2 separate regions of the Homo sapiens genome follow, and region 2 is reported to be linked to region 1. The links are microRNA targets in miRTarBase. Many come from high-throughput screens and were not tested one by one. Region 1 holds a microRNA gene; the other region holds the end of a gene's coding sequence.

What was found. The annotated mature microRNA hsa-miR-320d reads AAAAGCUGGGUUGAGAGGA and lies in region 1 at 2,565-2,583, shown strand. An mRNA with a match to its seed (bases 2 to 7 or 8) in the 3' UTR can be bound and repressed. Matches are read on the target gene's strand: a 7mer-m8 pairs with bases 2 to 8, a 7mer-A1 pairs with bases 2 to 7 and ends in A, and an 8mer does both.
Region 2: the mRNA of TAL1 is a reported target of hsa-miR-320d. Seed matches in the 3' UTR shown: 7mer-m8 at 1,809-1,815.

Annotation. Positions count from the first base shown.
Region 1 is chrX:140,923,575-140,928,754 of GRCh38, reverse strand. It overlaps MIR320D2 (microRNA 320d-2), which reads left to right and starts at 2,524; the gene lies at 2,524-2,595.
Region 2 is chr1:47,215,333-47,220,332 of GRCh38, reverse strand. TAL1 (TAL bHLH transcription factor 1, erythroid differentiation factor) reads left to right here. Exons shown (of 5, transcript NM_001290403.2): 5 at 159-4,042. The coding sequence ends at 613. Among named protein-coding and RNA genes, the nearest start is that of TAL1, 14 kb to the left of the region's middle.

The DNA of each region.
Region 1 (5,180 bases):
AATCACTTGTCCTCATTCTATCACAACACAGTCATTCATTTATTCAATCATTTAGCACCTTATTCATTTGGTCAACTAATATGTACTGAGTATCACTTATTTAATTTACCAAAATCTACTGTGTGCTAGGAACTACACCAGGCACCAAAATGCAATGTTCTCTCTGGCTGCCAGTACTGGTGACAAATGCTAGGATGATGAAAAAAGATTAACACTGCCATCTGAGATGTGTCAGACATCAGCCTGACCAGCTTGTTTCAATTCACTTTTTTTTTTGTCTTCTCCATCATTCATTCATTCATTAACACAAGTATATACTGAGTGCCAGGCACTGTGTTAGCCACTAAAGATGTAATCGAGAGCAAAATCAAAGTCCCAGCCTGGAGTGGTGTCTTCTCTGGTGGAGAATACAGCTATTGATCAAAGAATCACACAAGAAATAAACAATTGTAACTGTGGCAAGTTCCCCGACAAGTCCATTGTGGCCCTCATCCGCGCCCTCAGCTTCATAGAGTACAACCAGAGCAGCTGCATTTTAGTCTCTTTTATGTATTGGGCTTCCAGGTAAGATTAATTGAGGGAAAAATTGGGGTTTGATTTTTAAAAGTTGGAAAGCCACTATTCTATGGCATTTAACTCTGTTATTATATTGGCGATGAATTTTTTTTTCTACTGAATCTTTGCAACTATATGTCTCAAATATGAGATGCACTTTCTTAAAAGTGATTTTTAATCTTGCTGACAGATTATTATTTCCCTAGGATCTCAAATTCCCTCATTGTGTAATCATTTTCTCTAAGATTTTCATCTATCTTTACATCCCAAATGAATCAGTATCAGCTAAATAAATAACTAAATAAATTAATAAAGCAAGAAAGGAATTCCTCTTGACTCACCTACTTCTGCACAAGGAGATTATCTCTAATGCAAACCCAATTCATTCTTGAAGAGGGAAATAACCTGCTAGATTGATCTATAATCAGACACTAAACCCCAATGACCACCCCAACTAGGTGCAAGCATGCTTGGTGTGTCGAACAAAAATGTCTTTAACTTCTACTTACTGAAAAATTTTTTTGATAGTGTTCATCTATGATATCACACTTATTCTTATCCCCTTCAAAAGAGCAACTGCAATATTTTACACTTGTATGATACCACACAATTTAAAAAGAACCTCAAATGCAGAACCTCATTTGATCCTTAACCAACTCAGTAACTTACAAGTAGTATTTGGAAATGGTCTCACCCAACTAGCCAGACACATCTGTCGATGCTTTACTTTTGAGTTTGGGGGATGTCTGCTTGCTAGTGGTAATATTTGTGTTTATGAAGTTCTGAACTACTAACAAGTGAAATAAAGAAAGAAACTTGTATATATTTTCTATTTTATATGGTTTCTATTATGCCCTCACCTCCAATTTTTCACTTACTCGGTTTTCAAGAAACGAGATTATACCGGGTACAAGCAAACCTTAAAGATGTGGATGCTGACTGGTTAAACATGGCATTTTAGCCAAACACCGTACCTTAGCTAACCAAACTATGTCCCTATCTTCATTTTGCAAATAAGATATTGAGGTACACTCATGCTCCTCCTAATTGTTTTAATGTTTTTGAGCAGATGGTACAGCCCTAATTCCACTGAAACAAACCATGGTGGGTTGAATAGGGACCCCAACCCAAAAGATATGTCCGCATCCAAATACCTGGAATATGTGAATGTTGCTTTATTTGAGGAAAGGGTTTTGTAGATGTAATTAAGGTAAGGATCTCAAAATGAGATTATCCTAGATTATCCAGGTGGACCCCAAAACTGATAACACGTGTCCTTATAAGAAACAGAAGAGAAGAGACAAACACATAGAGGAGAAGGTGATGTGAAGACGGAGGCAAGATTGGATTGATGCTACCACAAATCAAGGAATTCTTGGAGCCACCAAAAGCTGGGAGAGGCAGGGAACAAACTCTTTTCTAGAGCCTCTAAAGCAGCAATCCTCAACCTTTTTGGCACCAGGGACCTGTTTCATGCAAGACAATTTTTCCACGTACTCAGGGAGGTGTTGTTGGGGGGCGGTTTTGGGATTAAACTGTTCCACATCAGATCATCAGGCTTTAGGTAGATTATCGTAAGGAGCATGCAGCCTACATCTCTTGCATGTACAGCTCACAATAGGGTTGGTGCTCCTATGAGACTCTCATGTGGATGCTAATCTGACAGGAGGTGGAGCTCAGGTGGTAATGCTCACAGGCCCACTGCTCACCACTGGTCTGTGGCCCAGGGGTTAGGGACCCCTGCCCTAAAGGGAGTGTGGCCCTGTGGACAGCTTATTTTCAGACTGCTGCCACTGGAAATTGGGATTCTCCAGTCAATTACTTGTAGCCATTTTTCACATTAAAGTCTGTATATTCACTGTGTTCTTAGAGCCCTTGTAAAGCTAACCAGCTCTTATCACCTTTAAGCAAGTGGGAACTTTTAGCCTTTCTAAAGTTGTAATTCTACTTCTGAAATGTCTTCAAATGTATCAATAAGCCTTCTCTTCCCAGTTCTTCTTGGAGTCAGGAAAAGCTGGGTTGAGAGGAGCAGAAAAGAAAAAAGAAAAAAAAATCGTTATTTTTAAATTCAAGAAAAAAAGCTGGATTTCCCACTATTATATTGCCACAAAAAATTACTTATTTTAATGCACTCAAGTAAGCCTTGATATTGTGGGTTGTTGGAGAAAAATGCACTATTTCCTGTCTATAAACATCTAAAGAAGAAAAAACATCTAAAATAATCACATTTAGTATTCTTGCAGTATGATTTGGATGCACTTCTGAGGTAATCTCTATTTTACTTAATTTTTATTGCTCCAGTTCAGTTAGCTAGAGTTTTTTATGTTTAGATAGTGTGTATGTGTGTGTGTGTGTGTGTGTGTGTGTGTGTAATATGGGGGTGGCAAGAGGCTGTTTCAGTAGACCATCAAGTTATTCAATTTGTATGCTACTGCTCTAGCTGGATTTCACATATGATATTATTTACTATATTCCTTATGCATTAGGTAAAATAACAGTGGAAAGATAGAAATGTTTTTTACTGAGAATTGCTAGCATAAATTTGAAAAAAACAGCAAATCTGTCAAATTCTTATCATATTTATGCTATAAGACACTTACTGAAAGAAAAAACCCTCTTTTTATATAGCTTATAATTGCAATCCAGATAACATAAAACATTTCTCATTATGGAGGAAAATATGAATGTAAATCTTATCTACATAAAAAGGTTGATGTTTTATTTCATTTCAAAATTCACACAAAACATTTTGTGACTACTTCTACTTTGAAAAGACAGAGCAGATTTATATGAATTTTTATTAATTGCTTCAATCCTTCCTGGCTTTGACAGCCTGGAGTCCTGGAAAGACCATTGGACCTGATTTTAGAAAGCCTGCTCTGCTACTGTGTGAGCTAAGTGTCTGGAAACCTAGATTCTTAATCAAAAAACATGAAGATAAAAGAATCTGTACCACCTAGATCAAAGAGTTATTACCAACACATCTGCCTAATAAAATCCCACTCATCCTTCAGTGCTGTATTAGTCCATTTTCACACTGCTATAAAGAACTGCCTGAGACTATAAAGGAAAGAGGTTTAATTGACTCACAGTTCAGCATGGTTGGGGATGCCTCAGGAAACTTACAATCATGACAGAAGGTGAAGGGGAAGCAAGGCACCTTCTTCACAAGGTGGCAGGAAGGAGAATGAACAAAGGAGGACATGCCAAACTCTTATAAAACCATCAGATCTAATGAGAACTCACTCACTATCACAAACAGTATTGTGGAAACCACCCCCATGGTTCAGTTACTTCCACCTGGTCTCTTCCTTGACATGGGGATTACATAGGGATTACAATTTAACGTGAGATTTGAGTGGGGACTGATAGGGTTTGGCTGTGCCCTACCCAAATCCCATCTTGAATTATAGCTCCCATAATTCCCATGTATCATGGGATGAACCCAGTGGGAGGTAATTGAATCATGGGGGCAAGACTTTCCCATGCTGTTCTTGTGATGGTGAATGTCTTATGAAATCTGATGGTTTTATAAAGGGGAGTTCCCCTGCACATGCTCTCTTTCCTGCTGCCATGTAGGAAGTCCCTTTGCTCTTCCTTCATCTTCCACCATGATTGTGAGTCCTCCCCAGCCATGTGAGTCCATTAAACCTCTTTCTTTTATCAATTACCCAGTTTCAGGTATATCTTTATTAGCAGCGTGAGAACGGATTCATACAGGGACACAGCTGAACCATATTAAGTGCTAAGACCATCACACCTTCCTGTGAGGCAGTGACTTCTAGAGCTGCACATTGGAATCACCTAGGAAGCCAGGGCCACTCCCAGAGATCCTGAATTGCCAGCTTGGGTGGGGCATAGAGCCAATAAAAGCCCCTTGGGAAAACTGGCCTCCTATCTTGTCTGCACAGTCCCTGTACAGGGTTCCTGACCTGTGGTAAGTAAAGAATGTCACTTTCTAACAGGCCTAGGAGCCCCTTGTTATCTTGGGATCTCAAGAGGAGAGGAATTTACTCAACTCATAGGTATTTGAGGGTACAAACCCATGACTGTGCTCAGCTTTAAAAAAACTCTTATCTGAGATTCCTTTTATGGAACAAAGTTCCATCAAAGCCAATTTTAAAGGCCTATATAAAAACAATTATTCTTGCTGCACTTTACACAAATAATCAGGCCAAGTATAATAAAGCAAATCAGTCTTACTATGATTTGTCTTTCATAAAAATGGGATACTGGAGAGAGAAAAATATGTTTCAAAAACTATGATATACCTGTTACTCAATTATAGTCTCATCAGTTGTTTTTGAGTTTTTTTCTGCAAGTTAGACTAACTCTGCTTATTCCTGTGAACCAACCAGTGATCTCTGGCTGCTGATCAGAAGAAACAAGAGGGATGGTTAATGTAATAATCTGGATCAGTATTCTAATTCTGGGCATGTATTGGAATGTATAGCATGTATAGCAATTCCATATCAGCTTGGTTCCAACAGCTGCCCAGTTCATGGAAAGCCTTCTTATTGAGTTTACTTGGGATGGATTTACTTTTTTTTACTTTACTGTTGTGGAATATATTTGCTGTTGTACTCTTTGTGTAGGAATGATGGATAAGCTTACTCAACGTTTTC
Region 2 (5,000 bases), not on the chromosome of region 1:
GATGAGGAAGCACAGGAACTTGAATTTGAAGGGTGGATGTTTTCTAAGTAAAAGGAAAGTAGGCATTCTAGGCTTCCCAAGTTTCCCAATGTATGGAGATGCCTTTGGGGAAGGAATCTCAAGCCCATTCTCCTAACTCTTGTCCTCCTAATCTCCAGGTCCCCACACCAAAGTTGTGCGGCGTATCTTCACCAACAGCCGGGAGCGATGGCGGCAGCAGAATGTGAACGGGGCCTTTGCCGAGCTCCGCAAGCTGATCCCCACACATCCCCCGGACAAGAAGCTCAGCAAGAATGAGATCCTCCGCCTGGCCATGAAGTATATCAACTTCTTGGCCAAGCTGCTCAATGACCAGGAGGAGGAGGGCACCCAGCGGGCCAAGACTGGCAAGGACCCTGTGGTGGGGGCTGGTGGGGGTGGAGGTGGGGGAGGGGGCGGCGCGCCCCCAGATGACCTCCTGCAAGACGTGCTTTCCCCCAACTCCAGCTGCGGCAGCTCCCTGGATGGGGCAGCCAGCCCGGACAGCTACACGGAGGAGCCCGCGCCCAAGCACACGGCCCGCAGCCTCCATCCTGCCATGCTGCCTGCCGCCGATGGAGCCGGCCCTCGGTGATGGGTCTGGGCCACCAGGATCAGCCAGGAGGGCGTTCTTAGGCTGCTGGGATGGTGGGCTTCAGGGCAGGTGGGGTGAGAATTGGGCGGCTCTGAAGCAAGGCGGTGGACTTGAACTTTCCTGGATGTCTGAACTTTGGGAAGCCTTTACTGACCCTGGGGCTGGCTTTTCTGTTTCCTGTACCAGTAGGAGATCAGAAAAATGGAGCAAAGTGGTAGGTACTTTTTGTGAAGACGGCACGGTCTTCCCTCTTCCCTCAGTCCCAAATCCTTCCCAAGTAAGAGGCTGGAGTTGTCACTGCTTTTGGCCTGGAGTTTGGGATCCCTGTCTTTCCTAAGACCTGGGGTTGTCAGCTCTCATCTGAGGCATCCAGCAGTCTCTGCCTTGCCTTTAGCCCCTCCCAAGCTGGCTGGGGTGGCCTGTGTGGCCACTTCTGTCCATATTTATAGGTACCCAATAGCTGCCCATTTCGTGAGCCCCATCTTCACCCAGGCCTATGTTGATCCATCCAGCTTGCCAGATGCTGCAGAGTCACAAGCCTCGAGGTGCCTTCTTCAGGGCCTGGTTGAAGAAGATGATCAGTGGACAGTCTGCTCTAGATGAGCTGGGCCGGAGGGTCAGGAAACCCAGTCGCCCTTACTTCTTGCCCTGGGGATCAAAGTTCTGCTTTCTCCCCAATGAGACTTGCCTTCCTAAGCCTGTGGCTGTGGAGACAATGTCTGCAGCCCTGAGAAAGCCCTGTCGGGCTTTGTGTGAAGGCAGAGAAAGGGACAATGATAGTAGAGTGATATGGAGCAAGAGATATTTTGGGCATGTGGGCTTCAACTCCTCGACATCACTGTTCATGCTGGCGAGTGAATGCCAGTGTGCTGATGGGCGTACGCTGGTGCTGAGTAGATGCGCAGCCCCATCTGTGCATTCTCCTGGATGCTTAGAGGGATTTCTTTGCTGTAAGATGTCTGTTTGCTGATGGTCTGGTCTATGTTCCGAATTGAGCACAAAACCTGTCCTATGAATGCTTTGCATTTGGAATTTTTGCTTGACTTCAGTTATTGGTGGAATCTTTAGCGCTCAATAGGACCAGGATCCAGCCTCACTTCTAGGGTATGGGAAATCCAATCAGAGACCAGGCCCTGGCTAAGACCCAAACATATGCACATTCACTTAGCAGAACCTTAAACACCCCTCAGTTGTGCAGCTTTTGGTCATCAAGGGTGCGTCTGGGAGGTTGGTTTAATGCAATAGAAGTGCTCCCCTCTGAAAGTTGTACATGAAATTTTTGTAAATCACATCCTTATCCTTCATCTTTTAAAGAAATAACCACTGCAAGTCCTTTTGTAAAGTGAAGAATCCTTTTGTAGAATGAACCACTGCCCCTTCATTGATTTCCTGTGTCAATCCAGATGGTGGGATGTGGTTTTCTTAAGGTGAGGCCTGTCTGTGACCTGCATCTAAGCCCATGGGACAAATTGCACAGAAGTCCTGTATGTCTGTCATTGTACCCTTAAGTCACCCTAGCCCTCTCCCTCTAGGCTCTGCCTTCGAGGTCAGAGGAGAGATAGCCTGTGGCCCTGTCCTGCCATGCAAGAACTCATCACTGTGGCTGTCTGGAAAGCCCCCCCTTATAGTTTGGGCTTCAGCCTAGTGGCTTGTCCTCACCATGATGGGGCCCTAATTCAGCCATGTACAGACAGAGAATATGTCTGCTCCTTTCCCCTTCCTTTTAAGTAAGGTCCAATTCTCGAGCTTGGGGCAACATTGTTCACCTTTGTAGCACTCAGGCTCTCCATTCAATTTCAGGCTCCCCAGATCATGTTTTGGTGAAAATTAGGGTTGGTTCCTTTCCAACGTTTGGAAGATCCTGTGAGGAGCCCCATCTGTCTAAAGATAGAGTCATTGCTGTAGGATCTAAGGCTGTTTGCTTCACCGTGGATTCGCTTGAGTTAGGAATGAGAAGTAGCCACAGTATGGATGGGTGGATGGGTTTTATGAGATGGATCACATATTTTATTAAGAACTCAAACTTCTGGCTCCCTCTTCTTTCAGACTTGCCATGTGACTCTGGCTTGGCCTATCTCCTAGGGCTATGGTGTGGACTGAATGGGATCATGAAAGTAGACAGTTTTGAGAACGTAAAGAACTTTTTCTTTTCCCTCAATCTCAATCCTGCAGTGGGGTTTCGCAGCCTGAGTCCACGACCTAGGCAGTAGGCCGGTGTGCCTGACTGCCCAGCATTTGGGTAATTTAGATTGTAAACCGCTTTGGCCTGAGTTATTGAGATTGTCCTCATTTCTCCAGATTATCTATTTGTGTGTGTGTGTGTGTGTGTGTGAGAGACGGTGTCTTGTTCTGTCACTCAGGCTGGAGTACAGTGGTGCCATCATTGCTGTCTGCAGCCTTGAACTCTGGGCTCAAGCAATCCTCTCACCTCAGCCTCCCGAGTAGGGAGGACCACAGGTGTGAGCCACCACACCTGGCTAATTTTTACTTTTTTTTTTTTTTGGTAGAGATGGAGTCTTGCTATATTGCCCAGGCTGGTCTTGAAGTCCTGGCTTCAGGCAATTCTCCTGCCTTTGCCTCCAGAAGCACTGGGATCACAGGTGTCAGCCATTGCACCCAGCCCAGATTGTCTTAATTTCTATCTTGTTCCAAGGCCAGGGACAGTAATAAGAATGGAAAAGAGATATGGGAACACTGGCAGACTGTGTAAAATGTAATGCAACTACCCAAAACAAGCCTGGTAGGAAAGGGCAAGTCTTTAGGTCTTTGTAAGAACTAAAGAAGATCTGTAATTTTTATTTTCACCCTCTGTACCCCATGACCTTATCCTTCCTCTCCTTCCTTGTTACCCATGAAAAACTGGCAACATTCCAAGAATAGCATCTGTACAAAGGGGAAAGAACATAAAGGTAAAACAAAACAAAACAACATTTTGAGAACAAAGATGACCATAACCACTGAAGGGAATCACATCTTTTAAGACAAATTCATATTCTTTTATTTGTTATGGCAGATGACAAGATGGTACAACCTTTATTCTTTTCCAAAATAAAACAAAGGGCACAGCATCTGTAGTCAGCCGACAACTATTTCGGCCTTTTGGGGGTGGGTCTGGCCGTACTTGTGATTTCGATGGTACGTGACCCTCTGCTGAAGACTTGCCCCCTGCCCGTGTACATAGTGCATTGTTTCTGTGGGCGGGCCCAGCACTTTCCGTCAACGTTGTACTGTATGTGATGAATTGCGTTGGTCTCTGCATTTTTCTGCAGAAGAGGAGTAACCGCTCCAGGTACCTTGACCTTTGTACAGCCCAGAGGCCAACACTGTGGGTGTGTGACTCTTTAGCAAAAAAAACCCATGTGGTGATGATGTGTATATATATGTGAGGATGTATCGGGAAGATTTCTAAATAAAAGTTTTACAAAGGGGCCTTAGGACTCTGTGCTTGCATTGCACCCCTAGGCCTGAGACGGGATATTGAAAGAAAAGTCATGGCAAGAACCTGTTTCTCCTGACATGGGGAGCCTCCAAGACTCAGCTGTAGTCTTAGGAAGTGGGATTCCACCCTCAACCCTGAAGGCAGGCCTGGTGGGGAGGAGACAGCCTTCCTCCCCAGGGTTTCCATTCTTTCTCTCCACAGGCCTCATAGAGGGGGCCTGTCCCCTTGGCTTCATGCACCCATGCTTGTATCTCAGGAAGCCTCAGCAGACATCCCCTCTTTGTGTTGGGGTGAGCTTCCATGGCTGGGACAGTTGTATGTATCCTAGGTTCAGGACAGATTAAGGCCATACCATAGGAGGGCCCCAGGTTCCCTGATGACTCAACGGCTGCAGCGGCGGCTGCAGCTCTTATGCCTGGCTCTTAAGGATTGGGGACTCAGAGATGAAGTCTGAAGGTAATGGAAGTCGAGAGTGGAGGCTCTGTGGCAGGCTCCATATCATCTGGGAGGACTTCCCTGGAGGCTCAGGAATGGAAATGTGGTTTAGATGATACAACCCTTATTCTTTTCCAAAAATAAAACAAAGGGCACAGCACCTGGGTCTGGGGGAAGCCACTGCATGTGGACCATTTGATCCTCAGGGATTTCAGTAGGTCATGCAGGCACTTCTAATGAAGTATCATGCCTTCCTTTCTTTCTTTCATTTATTTATATATTTTTTCAAGATATGGGATCTTGCTTCTTCTAGCCTTTGCCCAGGCTGATCTTGAACTGAGCTCAGGAGTTCAAGGGCCATCAAGGTGAAAAAGAAACAAAAGGTGCAAAAACCAGAAGGTTTTTGTCTCAGTCCCTTGAGTAGTTAGGACTACAGCATGTGGAACTGGCACCCTGTTTCATTTAACAAATATTTATTGAGCATCTAGTATGGGCCTGGTATTGTTCTACGTA